Homo sapiens: one gene and its partners. The protein of the gene in region 2 purifies or fractionates together with the protein of the main gene of each other region. This does not show direct contact. Each region holds a gene or a part of one and is shown on either strand. Other genes may lie near its edges.

What was found.
Region 1: the proteins of FSAF1 (region 2) and IARS1 purify together in Homo sapiens (affinity purification with mass spectrometry, with the first as the bait; one study listed by BioGRID). This does not show direct contact.
Region 3: the proteins of FSAF1 (region 2) and EIF5B purify together in Homo sapiens (affinity purification with mass spectrometry, with the first as the bait; one study listed by BioGRID). This does not show direct contact.

Annotation. Positions count from the first base shown.
Region 1 is NC_000009.12:92,290,893-92,295,311, reverse strand, and holds the start of IARS1 (isoleucine--tRNA ligase, cytoplasmic), read left to right. Parts: upstream 1-1,614; 5' UTR 1,615-1,701; exon of another isoform or gene 1,702-1,871; intron 1,872-2,718; exon of another isoform or gene 2,719-2,854; intron 2,855-4,389; exon of another isoform or gene 4,390-4,419. UniProt on the Homo sapiens protein: Catalyzes the specific attachment of an amino acid to its cognate tRNA in a 2 step reaction: the amino acid (AA) is first activated by ATP to form AA-AMP and then transferred to the acceptor end of the tRNA.
Region 2 is NC_000001.11:231,224,147-231,227,795, forward strand, and holds part of FSAF1 (40S small subunit processome assembly factor 1), read right to left. Parts: intron 2,923-3,649; coding exon 2,827-2,922; intron 2,680-2,826; coding exon 2,593-2,679; intron 1,378-2,592; coding exon 1,325-1,377; intron 269-1,324; coding exon 133-268; 3' UTR 1-132.
Region 3 is NC_000002.12:99,392,743-99,396,391, reverse strand, and holds part of EIF5B (eukaryotic translation initiation factor 5B), read right to left. Parts: intron 3,426-3,649; coding exon 3,294-3,425; intron 2,126-3,293; coding exon 1,994-2,125; intron 1,884-1,993; coding exon 1,807-1,883; intron 1,674-1,806; coding exon 1,509-1,673; intron 1-1,508. UniProt on the Homo sapiens protein: Plays a role in translation initiation.

The DNA of each region.
Region 1 (4,419 bases), on a different chromosome or scaffold from region 2:
TTCTGGTGTGCTCTCATGGTGACTGGCCAAGGAGAAGCACCCCTCTGCGCAGAAGTAAAATTGCTTTGCTGAAAATCCTTTGTTTGAATGTTCAATTTCCTTAGGATTTTGAGCATTATTTCCAACACAACAGTACTATTAATATAAATGTTTCTCAATCAAATTTTTAAATAATTAGACTTGGCCTACCTCACCTTTGTCCAGGAGCCCTCTGTCTGGCTCTATCTGGGCTCTCTGGATAGGTGACAAAAATGAACTGAACAAGGTGGCAACGTGAGGAATGTGAAAACTTCAAACACATTCCAAATACTTTCAGTTAATTAACAAGATTTGCAGCTATTAAATTATGTACGTTATGTGAGTATAGTCAGAACACTGAGTTACCCATGATGGAGGACATGAAACCACTTTAATCCTTCACACAGGGCCAAGACGGTAAGTAAAGTTAAATATATGCTGAACAGACTATCAAAATGTTCCTAAACTTAATAAGAAACTGCATTCTACCTATTCTAGGCCAGATAAATTTTTTATATCCCTCTAACGGATACAATAGGCAGCTACGGAACTACTCCCAATTTGGCAAGATCCAGAATTTCCTTTAGAGGCTCTGGGGCCAAAGCCCGAGGCCTACTGCCCTTTGCAAGGCTCCAGATTTTAACCAGCAGATCAGTAAGGTACCAAGCCGACTCATAGCAATGATAATAAGTATGCAGGCCGGGTGCAGTGGCTCATGCCTGTAATCCCAACAGTTAAGGAGGCTAAGGCAAGCAGATCGCTTGAGCCCACGAGTTTGACAGCAGCCTAGGCAACATAGCAAGACCCCGTTGCTACAGAAAATACAAAAATTAGCCGGGCGTGGTGGCGCTAGCCTGTAGTCCCAGCTACTTGGCCAGGGATGAGGTGCGAGGATCATCTGATCCGGGGAGGTTGAGGCTGCAGTGAGCCATGACCGTGCCACTGCACTCCAGCCTGGGCGACAGAATGAGACCGCTTCTCAAAAAAAGAAAAAAAAATCGTTTGTGCAATGTTTTCATTACCGGAAACATTTTAAGTAAAATACAATAAAACTTTTAAATCTGGTTGTCAGACCCTTCCTTCCCTTTTGTTATTATCGTTTCACGTAGCCATTTATGATAGGAGAAGCGGCTTTGGGGTCGGCGGCTCAGGGCCCAAAAGTATAATTATTAAAGCCACCTCTCCGGAAGTTGCTGTTTGTCGTTATCAATTTAGGTACGAAGTGTCCAGTCAGATAAATACTGACAAAAGCAAACAAGATGAAGAACATGAGCCCCGACCTCGGCGCCCCTTCCCAGTGGGCCGTCACCTACCCGGAGGTGCCCACAACCCGAGTGAGACCTCGGTCTACACTACTGCAACGGATACAAGCAGCACGCACAGCGCCGCCCTCAGCGCTGGTTCGTTTTCCACGTGGAGGCGCAAAACCAGCAAGCACCACTGTCGCACCATCCGAGCCAGTGGGCGCAATCATGTCCGGCGCGACCAATCGGCGCCTGGCTTGTTGGCAGGTGTCAGGCAGCGCGCACTGATTGGCCGGTGCGGAGCCTGTCTCCTTCACTGGATCCCGCATTTTCAGCGCGTTGCATCACCTCCGTGCGCCCGGTTGCAGCGTGGACGCCGGATGAGTTGCTTTTAGGCTTGCTGGCCCGCGGGGCTGTCCAGGCACGCGAGGCCCCTCAGGTACGCCCTCTCTTCCCTGCAGGATCCGGCCCTCAAAGACGAGGGTCACGCACGCGTTACAACCCCGAAACAGTAGCACAAGATTTAATTTTTAAAAGAGCGTGTTTCTTCGGGGCTTGCCGTTCGTTCGTTTCCAGCCTCAGGAATTTATGGTCGCCTTTTTGAATGAGGTAGTGTTTGAAATGAGTAAAATCTTTTTAAAATGATATACATAGTATAAATTGATATAGCTGTGACTTTATGTATAGGCAATACGTATTTTTATATGTCTTAATTTATTACCTTCAATGGCTGCGAGATACTTATTTTATTGATGTACCGTAATTTACTTCAGTCACCATGAATATTTAGATTGTTTTCAGTTATTTGCCTGGAGAAACAATTATTCGGTGAATGTCATTGTATACACATTTTGTACATTTGCATGAGTATACCTGTGGAGTCTATGTTAATAGGATATAACTAAATTGAGGAAACGTTTGAGACGGTCCCACTTTCAGGTTACATTTGACTTAATAGATTATGAAGACCTGAGAATAAAAGGAGAAACAGAAATGGATTTAGAGGAGAATGAAAAGGGGGAACAGAAATAGGCTTATAGGTAGGATCCACATGACTTGATGATTAATTGGTTGTGTGTATCTTCTGAGTAGTGTCAGGGGTGACTCAAAAATGTCATGCCTAAGTAATGGGAAGAATATTGGAACCACTAATACAGTAGTTTAAAAGGGAAGCAATTCTGGAAGGAATTATGAAATTTTAAACAAAACATGGTTTTAGTGTGCGTTTCTAAAATATATTGAGGCAAAATAATATGAAGTAATGTGAATAATATGTAGTTAATATCAGGGAGGGTGGTCTCGAAATTGCTGAACGGGAAGTTGAGGTTAAGGTGACCTGAAGGAGTTGTGGAGCAGCGAAGAGTCAAGGGCCTGGATTATAATAAGAGGGAAGCAAAGGGGATGGCATCCCTCTGCACAACAAGGTTGTTGTGCAAGGTTAACCTGCTCTGTCCCTGCCCTGTGGTTGCTGGATGCTGTTGTGCATGGACAGCTCTCCAGTGGATTCGATGGGCCATAGCAATCCTGTGATTTATGCATGGAGGCTGCTTCTCCTCAGCAGCTGCCATAGCCCGGTCGCTGGTACATGATTCTTCCTGAATAGTCAATGCTGTTATACTGAGTGTTTATGCTTGACGTAATAATGCAGTGATTCTTAATCTTTGGGGAAAGTAGAGACTCCCTAAAAAACACAGTAAAAGCTGAATGAGCTGGCCAGGCATAGTGGCTCATGCCTGTAATCCCAGCCCTTTGGGAGCCCAGGGCAAGAGGATCGCTTTAGCCTAGGAGTTGAAGACCAGCCAGGGCAACATGGCAAAACCCTGTCTCTACAAACCACCCCCTCCCCACCAAAAAAAAAAAAAAAAAAAGCTGAGTGTGGTGGTGCACACCTGTAGTCCTAGCTACTTGGCGGGCTAAACTGGGAGGAACACCTGAACCCAGGGAGGTCAAGGCTGCAGTGAGCCATGATTGTGCCACTGCACTCCAGCCTAGGTGACAGAGTGAGCCACTGTCTCAAAAAAAAAAAAAAAAAAGGAATGATCCTCTTCTCAGAAAGCTTAAATCTTATTTTCTCAAAAATAAAAATTCAGATAGATATTCCTGAATAATTGTTAGAACAGTGCAAGAGTGGTGATGTTCAGACTTTGATGTGAATGCTCATCCCCTAGGGATCTTGTTAAAATGCAGGTTCTGACTCGTAGGTGCGAGGTGAGGCTGGTAAGTCTGCATCTCTAATAAGCTCCCATAGATGTGGGCCATAGTAGGACCAGCCTTGAAGAGATTAGAATGTGTTGGTATCTAAAGGTCTGTTAGTCTTCAGATAACAATCCCATAAGTTTCAGTTGGCCTCTGATAAGGTACACAATGAACCTAAATAAATCAGTAAATGCACAAACACTTATTTTGGTCCTTGAAAGGCTAGAGGTTATAATAAGAGTTGAAGATCTAAAATGCCTTAAACCTTCTGTTTAATACCTTTTAATGGCATACTGTGATCAGAAATAGCTATTTCAGTTAGTTAAACAGCCCAACTGTTCTTGTCCTGTTTTTTCTTAAATTAAACTCAGAGGCACTCACACATCTGAAAAATTAATGAGGGTAAAAGAAAATGAAAGATACTACTTGTCACAGACTTTTTTTTAAATGATAACTTGAATCAATAACTTGATTAGACTATGATGCTTTTGATGCTTTCAAAACTGTTTGAGGTATGTAGGTGTCTTTTCCTGTAGAGTTGATTACCCTGGTCTGTTGTGGTTCTTGAGTACTTAAGATTTTTTATCTTCTCTGTTGTTCCCTTATTAGCAATTTTATCCCCTTCTGATCTGATACTGACTTGGAAAGCTCGTCACCCACCTTGTTAGAATTGTTAAGTAAATATAAATAGACTTTGAGAAGGAAAGGTCTCAAGGGTGGCTCACTAGATACTTAAGTCATAGATTGATCAAGTATCTCTGCATGAGGTTATTAGCAAAACATTTAAAAAGACACTTTAAGACTTCTCTCATTAGGGACTAAACCAGAAAGGTATAGGGCTCATCCTTCATAAAAATCATGAATAAGCAATAAAAAGGGTAAAATGGAAAACTGGAATCTATATTTGAATGTGAGATTCTCATCTTTTTAGCTTTAAGATTTTTTAAGTTTTACCAGTTTT
Region 2 (3,649 bases):
GACTTTTTTTCTAAAATGAAAAAGCAGTCTGTGAAATGCGTGTTAAGAACGATCTATCTAGAGTCGCACAGGGTCCAGGGCCGCTGCAGTTGACTCAGTTGTTCCCATCCTCGTTTTATTTGACAAAGTACTTCATTTGGCCACTCTGGAAGAATTTATTTTCTTGATATCAACTGGGCTCAGAATCAGTGTTCCATTTTTGAATTTTCCAACCTGTCCAATCCGTCCATTTGACAAAATACTGGGAGCGGACTTCTTTTTGGATTTCCTACATTTAAAGTAAGAGAAAGGTACTATAAATAGTCAAGCTTACCAACAAGCATCACAGTACCACCAACCAGGCCACTGCAGTCTGGCCTGCAAACTCCTGGTCGCCTGCCATGCACACCCCCCACCCCATACGCCTTCCTGTGGTCCCTGAAACATGCTACTGCCTTCCTGCCTCAGGGCCCTTGCACTGGTTTCTTCTGCAAGGAATGTTCTGCTACCAGCTCTTTCCAGGCTGCCCCTCTTCTTTGTTCAGTTCTCAGCTCCGATGTCACCTCCTCAGACTAATTTCCCAGCTCACCTTCTCCCTGTGGTTTTCCTTCACAATGCTCTCTTTCAGCCTCTCTACAATACTTGCCAGTACCTGATATCATCTTACTTATCCATTTGTATGTTTTGGGGTGTTTCTCTCCCTACAATGAAGCTCCTCAAGGGCAGGGATATCTTTAGTGTGATTACAGCTGTACACCAATACCTAAGACACCCACATGCCTGGCACAAAGAGGCATTCAACAGATACAGATCGGTGGCCAGAACAAATGACCATTTTACAGCATGTACAAGTGCACTAGGAGCCCAAGAAAACAGGCTAAGACAAAAAGAGTCCATTCTGAAACAGTAACTCAAAGACAGAGAAAAAGGCATTTGAACAAAAGCTAACAAACAAGTATAAAGCAACAAAGTCAACATCCCTTATTCATAATTACGGTGCTCTATCTTACGTGGTATGTCAAAGAGCAGGCTATACAGACCCAGACTACGCTGCTGTAGCAGCACTCTTAGAAGTCTTTTCTTGGAAATGTAAACTGCAGCTTTTCCACTAGTCACTTAGAGTGTCGGTGAAAAGTGGAAGATTGGAGAAACTTCCTAATTCAGTTCTCAGGCAGTTGTTTGATCTTGGGCAGTTTACTAAATCCTACTTTGACAAGGATAAATGAGAGACAGTGAAGCGCTCTAATGGGCTAGCAACACCACATACATTCAAGGCGTCCTTGTCAGAACTCATCAGTAGGTTCATCCAGATTGTTCAACCCCAGGACCTGATAAAATCACTCACCTGTCCTCCTGTCCTTTCCTCTTCTTTTTCTTGAAAATATCTGTTTCTTGGGCCTGATTTCAGAATTTAAGATCATATACATATTAGTAGTGGATAATGGGATTCAAACAAAAGGCAAGAGGTTTGTGACCAAAAGTCATTGAGATACCATTTTTAACATTTCTTTCAAGTGGGCATATTAAACATAACAGTCTCAAAGTTTTACCCTAAAACCCTTTCAAGAATGTGAAAGGCTGGGCCTGGCGTGGTGGCTCATGCCTATAGTCCTAGCACTCCAGGAAGCCAAGGGGGGAGGATCACTTGATCCCAGGAGTTCAAGACCAGCCTGGGCAACACAGCAAGATCCTGTCTCAGTTAGAAAGAAAAAGACAAAAGAATGTGAATGGCTATTCCAGGTAAGACTAATAGTCTTACACTGAAAGCTCAAATCTTCCATTTTAGGTGAAAGGTAGAAAGTGTAACATCTATTCCCCTTGTGGTTTTTCATAGGCCCTTGTGTTGTATACAAGGTTATACAACGTAAAATGCAAAAAAAAAAAAAAAAAAAAAAAAAAACCTAAGTATAGAAGAAAGATCAAAGTAGCCTGCATTATTGGAACAGGATTGCTATAGTTTGGATAGCTGACCCTCCAAACCTCAGGTTGAAATTTGATCCCAACATTAGAGACGGGACCTAGTGGGAGGTGTTTGGGTCATGGCAATGGATCCCTCATGAATGGCTTGGTGCTGTCCTCATGGTAATGAGTGAGTTCTCCCTCTGTTACTTCCCACTTCCCATGAGAGCTGTTTGTTAAAAAGAGCCTGGCACCTCTCCCCACTGCTGCTTCGCTCTTTCATGTCTCGCTCTTGCCATGTGATCTCTGTACACATGGGCTTCCCTCTGCCTTCCCTCATGAGCGGAAGCAGCTTCAGATGCTCACCGGAGGCCGAGCAGATGCCAGTGCTATGCTTTCCATGCAGTCTGCAGAACCATGCTCCAAATCAGCCTCCTTTCTTTATAAATTACGCAGCATCAGGCATTCCTTTACAGCAACAAAAACGGACTAAGACAAGGAGTTTGCTATTTCAAAGCAAATCTTGCATGTAAGTACGCCAGATTACTTGGCTGGTATTACTAAACAGAGCTAACTCGAAGAAATGGGGAGCATGGGATCCTTTAACTCTGGTGCCTTCATTGCTCTCCAAGCAGCGGCTTCCGGCATTCCACTGTGGCAAAGAGCATCCATCTTCCCATTCTAGTTGAATAAAGGACAGACCATCACACCTACCAGTCTCTTTTCTTCTTCCTTTGCTGCCTTTTTTTCTTTAATTTGCTCCTGTAAAACCTTGTAATTCACATAACTCTTTTTAGGAGGCTGTAATGAAAGAACAAAGAAACAAACCATCATATTTTATTCTGCAAAAATGTTCCAGTGTCCCTTGCCCTGACTTGCTCTTAGCTTTCCTTGCTCTTGCTTTTTTTGCATGTTGTCTAGTGATGAAAGGTAGCAGCAGCCCCTCACCTTAGCGCCCAGCATAATGGCACGTTCCTGTTCCAGGATTCTCTCCTTTCCTTTTCCATAACCCGTGATACCAAACCGGTGCACTTCTAAACGAGCCTGCGGACACAAAGCATAATCAGACGCAAGTGCATTCCAACAACTCCAAAGAAAAAAACATACTGCCAGAAGTAATGCATTTCAGATCCACCGCTCTGTAATGACAGCGTACAGGAATAATAACTCCACTGTCATGTGGTCAAAGGAGCTCTATGGAGGCTCTCCTACCATACACCATCTCTCACAACATCTTTCTCCTGTTTTTTTTCCTTTGAGACAGGGTCTTGCTCTGTTACCCGCCAGGATGGAGTACAGTTAAAAAGAGGCATGATCATGTCTCACTGCAGCCTTGACCTCCTGGGCATGTGATCTCCTGCCTCAGCCTCCCGAGTAGCTAGGACTATAGGCACGCACCACCACACCCAGCTAATTCTTAAAAAATGTTTTATAGAGAAGAGGTCTCACTATGTTGCCCAGACTGGCCTTGAACTCCTAGGCTCAAGTGATCCTCCCACCTCAGCCTCCCAAAGTGCTGGGATTATAGGTGTGAGCCACCGTGCCTGGCTCTCGCCCACGGTTTTTTTTTTTTTTTTTTTTTGAGACGGAGTCTCACTCTGTTGCCCAGGCTGGAGCACAGTGGCATGATTTCAGCTCACTGCAAGCTCTGCCTCCTGGGTTCATGCCATTCGCCTGCCTCAGCCTCCCGAGTAGCTGGGACTACAGGTACCTGCCACCATGCCCAGCTACTTTTTTGTATTTTTTAGTAAAGATGGGGTTTCACCGTGTT
Region 3 (3,649 bases), on a different chromosome or scaffold from region 2:
GCAGGTCTTCGTTAGGCACATATGTAGGCTACTGGGGGATCACATAGGCATCAGACCGTATTATCACCCTCCTTTTCTCCACCACGTTCCCAAACCATTGATCCAAAAGGCCACTACATAACTACCCTGCTTATTGAGCACACGCTTAAAATGCTTTAAAAGTTTCCAGCAGTCTTGTTAAGTAGAATTCTTCTCACTTCAGGTTTCATGATCTAAAGTGAGCATATACCAGTCTAAATCCTAATATTTACTAGTAAGCTCCACTTAAAAATGTATCCCAAACTACGCCATCACTCCTATCATCACTGTGGTCTGAATCACCTAGACCTCTTGCTTGGACTGTGGGAGCCTCCTGACAGGCTCTTGCCACTGACTTCCTAACAACCCAAGGTCCACATAACAACCCAATTAACCAGTCTGATTGTGAACACACAGCCTTGGCAATGGCTTCTTGCAAAACTCAGAGAAGCTCAATCCCTCCCATGGCCTGTAAGATCCTTGACGATACAGGTCCTGCCACCCTCTCTGACCTCATTTATCACTGTCCCTTCTGGTCACTCTGCCTCGCACTGCTGTTCTCTCTGGACACTCCCCATGTGCCTGTGTGGCTTACTCTGTCTGAAGAGGTGAGATGCCTTCCCAAACCACATCATTAATCACAGTCCCTCCTCTCCTTATCTAGGCCCTTCCCTGCTTTATTTGGTTTTTCAGCACTTCTCAACATGTGTCAATTGTCCTGCAATAAGAGCATGTCCCAGACCAGGCACAGTGGCTTACACCTATAATCCCAGCACTTTGGGAGGCAGAGGCAGGTGGATCACTTGAGCTCAGGAGTTCAAGACCAGCCTGGCCAACATGGCGAAACCCTATCTCTACCAAAAATACAAAAAATTAGCCAGGCATAGTGGTGTGAGCCTGTAGTCTCAACTACTCGGGAGGCCAAGGTGGGAGGATCACTTGAGCCCAGTAGGCAGAGGTTGGGGTGACCCATGATCATGCCACTGTACTGCAGCATGGGTGACAGAACGAGACCCTGTCTCAAAGGGAAAGGAGGAGGGAGGCTGGCCTGGTTCTCTGCTGATGCCTCCTCTACCACTGCAGCAATGTAGGTACTGTGAGTGCTTGAGTGAAAGTTTGGTAGAGGAATGGACTTCTCTCCCACAGAATCTCTTATTTCCCGGTTTTCCTCACTCAAGTTTTGTTACTTCCAATCTATATAATCCCAGATGAGCAACATAAAGTCCCTACATTTAATAACTACGAACCCATTAACAAGACCCAAGTCTGCCAAGATTATTAAACTGAAGTCACAGACAAGACTTGTTTGCATACTGCTGGAATGTCCCCAGTATGTTGGGTTTCTGGTTTGTAACACACCATTTCAGGATGCAGCCTCTGGTAGATGAGTAAATGCCATGATTTTGCTGTTTACAGCCCTTTCTGGAATTCAGTAATTCTCAATCATGTTCATTAACAAAGACTCAAAGTAAATAAAAACAGTAACTTACTTAAATTCTTCTTGTTTCTGTTTCTTGTAGTCTTGTCTATATTTTGTAAAGGCATCAAATAAATGATAAATAATTTCTGCACTAAAAATTCTAACTCCTAAACTATCAGCCATTTCTTGTGCATCTCGTTCAATTCTCACATCGAAGGCCAAAATTACTGCATACCTAAAAGGTTAAAACACATCAAAGACCATTCAGTGAAAAACAGAGTATGTCACAGAGGACAGTTTTTTAAGATAGGACAGTTTTAAGATAGCTACGTAACATGAAAGCCTTCATAGCAAGAGAAATTACTTACTGAGGGTCATGTTCCAACATCACTGAAGCCTTCATAACATCTTTTTTATGCACTGGGCCAATGTTAATTCCTGCATACTGAAAAAATGGGAGTTTCCATGTTTATCTGTATGTATCAGGTAATGGCGATGGCACCAAAAACCACGACCAACCACCATTCACTTGTGGAGCGAGTTGTAGTTACTTACGGGCACTTCTGATGTTTTCAGAAATTCCAGTAGAGCTTCCAAAGAACCCAGTGTAGATGCCTGGACATAGACTCCTTTTTCTTCTAATTTGATAGCATTTAGTGTCTGCTTTAACTCATGGATCAATTCATCCTTGAAAAGAAATCAGATTTGATAAGGTTGTCAACACACCTCTATCCTCAGCAGTCTAGAATTAAATTGTGTTTCTCTCTTTGGTTAAGTACTCATCTGCAAATATGAAACTAAGGCTTAGATAGAGCAAGGCATCACAGAACCTGTGCTGGAATGAAGGAGGAGATTTCGGGGCCATACCCTAACTGTATTTCGCTTCACCTTTGTCTTAGGTTTACTAACTTTGAAATATGTTTAATCTCCGCTCCACTTGGCAAATACAGTAGATGGGTGGGCAGAATTAAACAGTAGAGAAGAAAAATTTTTTTAAAGTTAAAAAAGTACCACATAAACGTAATGTGTTATGATAGCCCAAAAGTTCAGCTTGTCTGTGTTAACTAGGAAATACCATAATCTCATGATCTCAGCAGCTCCTTCCTCCATCACTGCTTGTCGGGAAATGGAAGAAGAGATTTTTAACCAGAAATAAGTAAAACAAGTTTATCAATGCCACTGAAGGGACGTAAGTCCACTCCATACTCAGGACTGGGTGAAGAGACAGGCCTGCCCTATTCTCTCACTGGCCCTAAGATAGCTTATTCCCAACAGCATGACTTGATGCTGCCTAAATAATAAACACGGCCCCAGGACACAAGAGCCATGTGCTGGGAACAGTTGTATTTTCTCTTTGGCAAATGAACAAACTATGGCTCAAAGTCCACTTTTATGAAACTACAATGGACATGGGCCAAAAAGAATATACAATTTCTAGCTTTTTTTTTTTTAGACAGGGTCCTGCTGTCACCCAGGTTGGAGTGCAGTGGCACGATCTTGGCTCACTGCAGCCTCTGCCTCCCAGGTTCAAGTGATTCTCCTGCCTCAGCCTCCCAAGTAGCTGGGACTACAGGTGTGCATTCACCATGCCCAGCCGACTTCTAGCTTTTGACTCATTTTTTTATTTGAATAAAATGCATTATTTTTATAATTCTAGTACATATAAAAATTATACCAATTTCTATGATTGTACAAACTGAAGTAATTCAAAAGCATCAAGTTTGCTAAGAGGCCAAGAAATGGCAGGCTTCACAAAGACAAAGCCAGTTTTGGTCACCATCCCTAGCATGTGCAATGCTGACACATGCCAGAACTCAAATAGCTTTTAAGGAAAAAAATTTTTAAATGAACTTACTTTAAGAACAGGGATTTCATCTTCTTTATAAGCCACAAGGAGGGGTAAACCAGCCAATGTTTTCTCCAGGTCTTTTCCAAGAATCTTTACCCCCTGAGCTGCTTCTACTTCTTTATGCTTTTCATACTGGTTCTACAGAGATAAAAACATTTGTTACCAAATGTACTTTAAAAGTGGTTAGCAGTAGAAGATGATATAAGAGAATCTCATCATGATATTAGAGAGAGGTTTCTTAAACGAGGCACAAAAAGCAATAATCACAAGACTGATAAATTTAACATTAAAATTAAATATTTCCATTTCTCAAAATACCACAGGAAAAAAAAAGTCACAAGAGTAGAAGATATTGCAAAACA